Homo sapiens: one gene and its partner. The protein of the gene in region 1 purifies or fractionates together with the protein of each later gene. This does not show direct contact. Each region holds a gene or a part of one and is shown in the gene's direction. Other genes may lie near its edges. The genes, in order: SNN and TES.

Region 1 (3,911 bases):
AGCCTATAATCCCAGCACTTTGGGAGGCCGGGGCAGGAGGATCACCCAGGAGTTTGAGACCAGCTCAGGCAACAACAAGAGACCCTATCTCTACAAAAAATTAAAAAATTAGCCGGGCATGGTGGCATGCACCTGTAGTCTCAGCTACCTGGGAGGCTGAGGTAGGAGGATCGCTTGAGCCCAGGTTACAGTGACCTATGATTGCACCACTGTACTCCAGCCTGGGCGACAGAGCAAGACCTTCTCTCTAAAAAAAAGAAAAAAAATTGCTTCGTCAAATCTGCCCACATTCATAGATATAGGCTGAGTGGGACGATGGCTTGAGCCCAGGAAGGAGTTGGATGGAGGCTGTAGTGAGCTGTGATTGCACCACTGTACTCCAGCCTGAGTGACAGACCAAGACCCCGTCTCAAAAACAAAACAAAAAACCCCAAGGGAGCTACTCTTGGCTGGGCGATCAGGGAGGGCCCTCCTGAGGAAGGGGCACTTAAGCTGAGATCGGGAAGATGAAGTAGAAGAGTTCCAGCTGCAGGGAGCCACATAGGCAAAGGCCTGGCGGTGGGAAAGGCTTGGTGCACTGGGCGCAGGGAAGAAAGCCCAGCGAGGCTGAGTGGAGGGAGTGAGGGCCTGGCCACCTCAGCCTCGTGAGCCCAACCCGCCATGCTCTTCCAGAGGCTTCTGCTTGAGAATGGGAAAGAAGTTTCCAGCAAATAAGGCCCCCGTTCCCAGGAGGAGGTCCCAGCTCGCCCTGCCCCCTCCTGTCTTCTCAAGTCCCCTGGGCCACAGAAGCCTTGAGGGACCCACCCTCACCCCTTCTGTGGGCCCCAGGGCTGGGGTGTCCTCTCGCCGATGGCCTTCTTGGGGTGGATGAGTGGAGATTACTCCAATAACTGGAGCCTCTGTCTTCCCAGGTAGACAGGCCTGGCCTCAAAACCCTCTCTCCATCAGGAGCAGGCTGTGGGACTTCAGCTCTTTGGAGCCTCAGGTTCCTCATCTGTAAAATGGGAAGATTCTTTCTTCCGGAGTCATCTTAATAAAATGTGTTGGGCTGTTTATACAGGGCAGGCATTTGGTGGGGGCCAAACCACCGGGTAATTATGCTAAAAATAACTATGATTATAGGTGGCAGAGGGGTGCAAATGCCTCACAGCCTCATCCCGCAGAGGAATGAGAGCTTCGTCAGGGCCGGGACCTTGTCTGGCTCGTGGCTGCTCCCACGACGACTGGCGTGGCAGGCACGTGGTCAGTGTTCCGCCATCGACTGACTGGGCGGATGAATGATACATAAATGAATTCGCGAACGACTGATGCCCAGCTTCCTCCCGAAGCAAGGTCATTCACCTCAGCGGTCGCGCCTCTCCCCTGCCCCTGCCCCGGATTCCCCGCCGCTCTCAGCTCTCGAGGAGTATGCAGCACTCTTCCGTGCAGCGTGCCTCAGTTTCCTCCGCTGTAAGCAGGCGGGACCAAGGCAGCCTGCCGGGGTCAGGATGAGGCTGGCAGAGGAAGGGCGCCTGTAGTGGGGCCCCGTACCCACGGGCGCCCAATCCGCGCTCGCCAGGGCCGAGCCCGCCCGCCGCGCGCAGCCCCCGCCCCACCGCCTGCCGGCCCCGAGCACACGTGACTCCGCCCCGGCCCGCCCCGCCCCGCCGTCCCAGCGCGGGCTCCCATTGGCCTTTCTGGGAGGCCCCGTCCCCAGCCGGGGAGGAGCCGGGCCCCGCCCGCCGCAGCGCGGGGCTCCTGCGTCCCGAGTGCGCGGCGGCCGGACCGGGCGGGCGGAGCCGGGCCCGCGGGGCTGCTGCGGGGCGATCGGGCCGGGCCGCTGCCGCGCCATGGTGAGCCGGGCGGGGCAGGCCGCGCGCTCGGGCCGGGCGGGGGCGCCGGGGCCCGGGGGCGGGAAGGGGGAGGCCAGGACGAGGAGGGGCGCGCGCGGCGGCGGGGCCGGGCCGGGGTCTGCGGGCGGGGGAGGGGCGGCCCGGCGGGCGCGGCTCGGGGGAGGGTCCGTTCCAGGGGCCGCGCCCGCGGGCTGGGGTTCTTTGTCAGCGGCGCTGCGGCGAGATCCGGACAAAGGAGGCGGCGGGGGGCGGAGGCCGCTTTGTGGGGATCGCGGGGCGCTCGCCCCCGCCCGTGCAGCCCCCGCCCGTCCTCAGCTACGCTCCCGCCTTCCCCCGGCATTTCGGGGTTCTTCAAAATTCTGGGAGCTCCGGGGAGGGCTCCGGGGATAGGGGTCCAGGTGACGTCCGGCGCCCGTCTCGCGGGTAGGGAAACTGAGGCCGGGCCGCAGCGTTCGGCGCCCGGTTCCGTGGGCAGCGGCTGCGCGGCGTGGGCATGCCTAGCTCCCCTGGTCCCCGTCCCACACCCCGCCTCCGTCGGGCCGATTCGAGCTACCTCCCCAGCTGCCGTCCCCTCTCCAGCTGTCGCCCCCTGGGCCGAGCCCCCTCCTCCCTGGAGCCTCGCTTTGCTCCTCCGTGGAGTGGGGGAGACGCCGGCGCCGCCGGGCAGGGTGGAACGGGAGGGTGCGCGGAGCGCGCCTGGCACCGCGCCTGCCACGCCGCCCGCGCTCAGCACTCGGGAGCCGCCGGGGCGCTGTCACCCCTAAGTCCCCAGCACCCAGCCCAGGTCGCCCAGCCCGCCCCAGCGAGGGCCACACTGGGGTTCACCTGTCCGCGGCCCCTCAGGCACGCGGGAGAGGAGGTAGGGAGAATGTGGCATTTTAGAGTCAGGGTCGAAATGCGGGATTTTGGATGCAGGTTGCCTGGGTTTGAATCCCTGCGCGTCTACTTTTGAGCTGTGTGACCTTGGGCAATGGACTTAACTTCTCTGAGCCACCAATTTCTGTATCTGCCAAGAGGGAACAGTAATAGCTCAACTGCCCTGTTGTCTTGAGGCAGAAAGGAGACATCTGCGTGAGCTGTTTATCTCAGTGTCTGGCACATATAATTGCCACCAACTTTCTCCGGCATCTACAAGCAAAGTTGTTTGGCCAAACAGGCCAACCCTGGGGCAGCCTGTGAAAATGACCAGCGGGTGATTCACAGGGTGGGGGCATGAGCCTCTGGCCTGGCCCGAGGAAGACCCCGACTGACCTTGGGGCAGTCCCGGTTCAGAGCTCTGCGGGCTCCCGCTTCCTCTTTTGCCACTGGGGAACCTAGGGGATTCTGGAGCGAGTTTCCTCTTCTGAGGATGGGGGTGTCATGGGTGGGGGTGGAGGATGAGATAACACTGGCCAGAGAGCTGGGCACAGCCCCATCAGTGTCAGTCCCACTGGCATCCGGCCGTTCTTGGTCCTGGCTTCTGGAGGGCTGGGGCCTTGTGTGATGCGTCCTTGTGTCCCACTGGCTGCTGGAGGCCCAGGGCAGAACGGACGTCCCGCCTCGTCCTGGCTGTGTCCAGCAGTGCCCTCTTCTCCCTACAACCCTGTTTTCCCAGTCAGAACCTGGGGCAGGAAACGTTTCTGGTTTGTGACCCGGGGTTCGCTGAAGAGTTTGTTGGCACCCTTGGCAGGTGGCTTTATGGGGGGAGGCAGTACTGAAAGCCCCGTAGGGATGGCTGGTCCCCTGTAAGCAGGGCAGCCCTCCTGGCGTCTGTCAAGGAGCCTCAGGAGGTGGCGGCTGCAAGGCGGGGGTGTTTTGCTGGTGGTGAGCCCGGCAATGCTCATGATGTGCCCGGTTGAGTTAGGAGGAGGCAGCGTGTCCCTGGGGAAGGGGTGTTTGTGGCACTGGGCCTGGGCCAGGCTCTGTGCCCTTCTGGCCCTGGGGGTGGGCTTGGGGATCCCTCGGGCTCAGTGTTCTCCCTTTGTCCCTGCTGTAGCACACAGGAAGGTGTGGCTGGTGACATGCAAACCTGGTGACCTCATGTCCCTTTTGTTTTCACTTTTCTTACCACTTCTCATCCTCCCCACGACCTGGTAGATG
Region 2 (3,911 bases), on another chromosome or scaffold:
TTCTTTTCATGATAAAAAGCAATCAGAATATAAAATATGTTATGTATGTACTTGGAACTGCCATGTACATACCTGGGTATCATCATTGACTAAATATAAGATTTGTTTGAAAGTTATCTCAACACAAGTGGTAAGTGGAATTAAAAGTGCAATTTATTGAATTTTTAGATTTGTAAAGAATCTAATAACAGATTCATGATGTTTTCTTTTTAACAGATGGGCTTAGGTCACGAGCAAGGATTTGGAGCCCCTTGTTTAAAATGCAAAGAAAAATGTGAAGGATTCGAACTGCACTTCTGGAGGTATTGTTTTGAAAACTGCAACCACATTAGTAATTTATACTTTTTGCAATACTTCCTCAGACAGTGGAGATATCTTCGAGTTCTCCAGCATGGTTGCTAAGTTGCAGACCTGTTACTGTCTTTTCTGAGAAATGAATACAACATAAAAAGTGTTCTGTCTTACTGTCATTAAGTTTGACTTAGTGAATTGGACCATAATAACTATTTAGAGTTGTTGGATTTGCTTGCTGTCTTTAAGATTTCCTTCGAGCCTGAAATACTGAATATATCATCTTTCTGGTGGTAAATAAGTTTGTGGTAATCCTCCAGGACTGTTTAATAATTTATTTGTTACTTTTTTTTTGAGACGAAGTCTCATTCTGTCACCTAGACTGGAGTGCAGTGGTGTGATCTCAGCTCACTGCAACCTCCGCTTCCTGGTTCAAGCGATTCTCTTGCCTTAGCCTCCTGAATAGCTGAGATTACAGGCTTGTGCCACGACACCTGGCTAATTTTTCTTTTTTGTATTCTTAGTAGAGATGGGGTTTCGCCATGTTGGCAAGGCTGGTCTCAAACTCCTGACCTCAAGTGATCAGCCCACCTCAACCTCCCAAAGTGCTGGGATTACAGGCGTGAGCCACCATGCCTGGCCCTGTTTAATAATTTAATTATTCTCTTCTTAAAAATTGGTAACTTTACATCTCATGTCTACATTTTCCGTAAACAAATATGAATACTGAATCAAGCATGTATATGTTAGTTATCAGGAAATGAAGTTGAATTTAGATCTCTTTAAAATTTTTAGCTGTAAAGTTACTAGTGAAAAACCATTGAAACACTTGAATTTTTTTAAGAAAAAAATTAATTGTAGTGTCTTGGTTTGAATGAAGTGCATATATACACAAGACAATGTTAGTGAGTCAAAAATGTGAATTTTCTATAGATCTTATCTTTAGGTTGTTTTGAAAGTACTACTGCATATCATATAAATCTAAAATCAGTATTTGAAACCTGTGCTTATGAATGACTGTCAAGTCCATAGTGGTAATTCACAAGTCTGCTCAAAGTTAGAATTAGCAGGAAAAAAAAATAAAGATAACTATACAGTTTTAGGATGGCAGCTACCTTGTTAGGATGACTCTCATTTGAGAAACACTTCTGTACTACAGATTTCCACAGGAAACCGTTTAGAATACTTTCATCAGCTCTTGGAGATGTGTACAGTGTAAATTAAAGGAGAATATAAACAAATAAAATTTTAGACATTAATCTCTTTTAAAAACTAGTTTATTGAATCAGTTTTCAGAAACAAAGATAATTGTTTAAAATAGGAAAGTCAGTAGAAACCTGCTAGAACTGATACAGTTCTTCAGTTTTGATACAATTCTTCAGTTTTAGGGAGCTAAAGTTTTCCAGAATTTTTTTTTACAAGACTTAAGCAGCTCTCCCTTGTGCTGTCTCTTCAAGGGACATAGAAGTGGCAGTATGTCTCTCATGTTTTAAAAAGGTAAAGTGACTTAACACAAAATAGTTTTCATGAATTAGAACATCTCTGCTCTTAATGCTCACACTATTTTCTATTGGGCCTATTAGTTAACTTTACAGAAGGCTGCACTGCCCTCTCCTGGGCATAGTTTTTACCTTACAATCTTATAATACATAAAATCCAAAATCCAAAATGCTCCAAAACCAAAACTTCTTGAGTGTCAACACGATGCCACAAGTGGAAAATTTCACATACCTGACCGTGTGACAGGTTGCATTCAAAAATGCATTCAAACCTTTGTGTCTTGTACAAAATTATTTAAAATATGTATAAAATTACCATCAGCTTATGTACATAAGCTGTATATGAAACAGAAATTAATTTTATGTTTAAACTTGGGCCCTATCCCCAAGATATCTCATTGTTTATGCAGATATTCCAAAATTTAAAAAAAATTTGAAATCTGATACACTTCTGTTTTATTTTACTTGTGAAACATTTTGGGTAAGAGATACTTAACCTGCATTCTTTTTAGTTCTGCTATGCAGTTGCCAAAAACCGCTCGTGAGATTTTAAAGCTCATTCCTAAGAGATATCATCTTTTCTCTAAAGCAAGTTAGTCATTTTTGTTATGTCTATATTAATCATTTTAATCGATATTTTCAGATGAAAATATATCCGACAAGAGCAGATCTCCATGGCATGAAAATAACCTTTTACATTTCAATTTATCACACAGACTCATTTAATCAACTGGGTGTAGTCTGAAAATCTAAGAGCCATAATAGTCTAGGACTTTGCATATGGCCTGTCATTCAGCTGGGGTTGATAACAGTCCACCCCATTGGTATTTCTTAGTAGTTCTGACATCTTCCTGGCATGGGTCCAGTCACATTTCTCTCAGAATTCTTGATAATTCCCTGACTTTTTCACCATAGCTAAAAGAGCTGAAGCAGGTGCCTTTGACCTCCCTATGTAGCCTCTTTCAGTACAGTCTTTGAAGTAAAATATTCTAGACTAGTTGTCCTGAGTGTAACAAAGATTCCAGGTCTAGTCTAGGGCCACAGAACTTATGTGGGTGAAGTAGACATGGGATCCCATGACCCTGCCCACTTAGCCTCCTCCTCCAGCTTCATGGTGATCCTTGACTTAGGACCCTGAGGGCTCCATCGGGCACATTTCAAAAATCAGAGTTAAATTATTCTCTACCTCTTTATTAGTCTGGCCTCTCACACAATCACAAGAATGGTCTTTTGAACATGGATACTATTACATACTTCAGATGACTTAAGAACCCTCAGTAGTTTCCCACTGGACTTCTTTTAGGCAAATTTCTTGGCCTTTGACATTAAACCCTAACATCTGGCCTCTGCTTGCTTTTCCAGCCTCTTCCACTTCCCTTCCAAGCACTCTATGATCCAAGTGCTTGATACATACTATTCCCTGAAATTTTGTGCCTTATTGCATGGTGTTCTCTGCCTGGAAAACCCTACCTCCCACCACTAGGAAACAAAAAGTCTCAGCTCAAGAAATACCTCTGAGAAGTCTTCCCTGCCCATGTATGTCTTTTCAGGCTGCCATAACAAAATATCACATACCTGGTAGTTTAAACAGAAATGTACTTTCTTCCAGTTCTAGAGGCTGGAAAGTTCGAGATCAGGTGCCAACATGGTTGAGTTCTGGTGAGGTCTCTCTTCCTGGCTTACAGACGGCTGCCTTCTCACCACGTGCTCACATGGCCTTTCCTTGGTGTGTGTGGGTGTGTGTGTGTGTGTCTGGAGAGGAAGAGATCTCTCTCCCTTTTCTTATAAGGTCACCTATTCCAATGGATTGTGACGTTCACCTTGTGACATCTTTTAACTTTACTTCTTAAAAGCCCCTGCTCCAAATACAGTCACATTAGGAGTTTGAGCTTCAGCATATGACTTTGAGGAAACACAGTTCAGCCCACAGCACCCCCTTCCCCTGCTTCCACATACCCCCAAGTTGTTAGGAATCATTTTCCTTTTTATCACCTTGTATACTTACAGAAAGCCAGGAGATAAATACCCAGACCTCATTCTTCATCACTCTGATTTTCTGCTGGCACCTCCCATTGTCCCATTGCCAGTGACAAGGGATCCCACAGGTGTAGTCCTTAAGGA

What was found.
Region 2: the proteins of SNN (region 1) and TES purify together in Homo sapiens (affinity purification with mass spectrometry; 2 studies listed by BioGRID and IntAct, with this or other methods). This does not show direct contact.

What each region holds. Positions count from the first base shown.
Region 1 is NC_000016.10:11,666,709-11,670,619, forward strand, and holds the start of SNN (stannin), read left to right. Parts: upstream 1-1,746; 5' UTR 1,747-1,832; intron 1,833-3,911. UniProt on the Homo sapiens protein: Plays a role in the toxic effects of organotins. Plays a role in endosomal maturation.
Region 2 is NC_000007.14:116,234,318-116,238,228, forward strand, and holds part of TES (testin), read left to right. Parts: intron 1-216; coding exon 217-302; intron 303-1,550; exon of another isoform or gene 1,551-3,911. UniProt on the Homo sapiens protein: Scaffold protein that may play a role in cell adhesion, cell spreading and in the reorganization of the actin cytoskeleton. Plays a role in the regulation of cell proliferation. May act as a tumor suppressor. Inhibits tumor cell growth.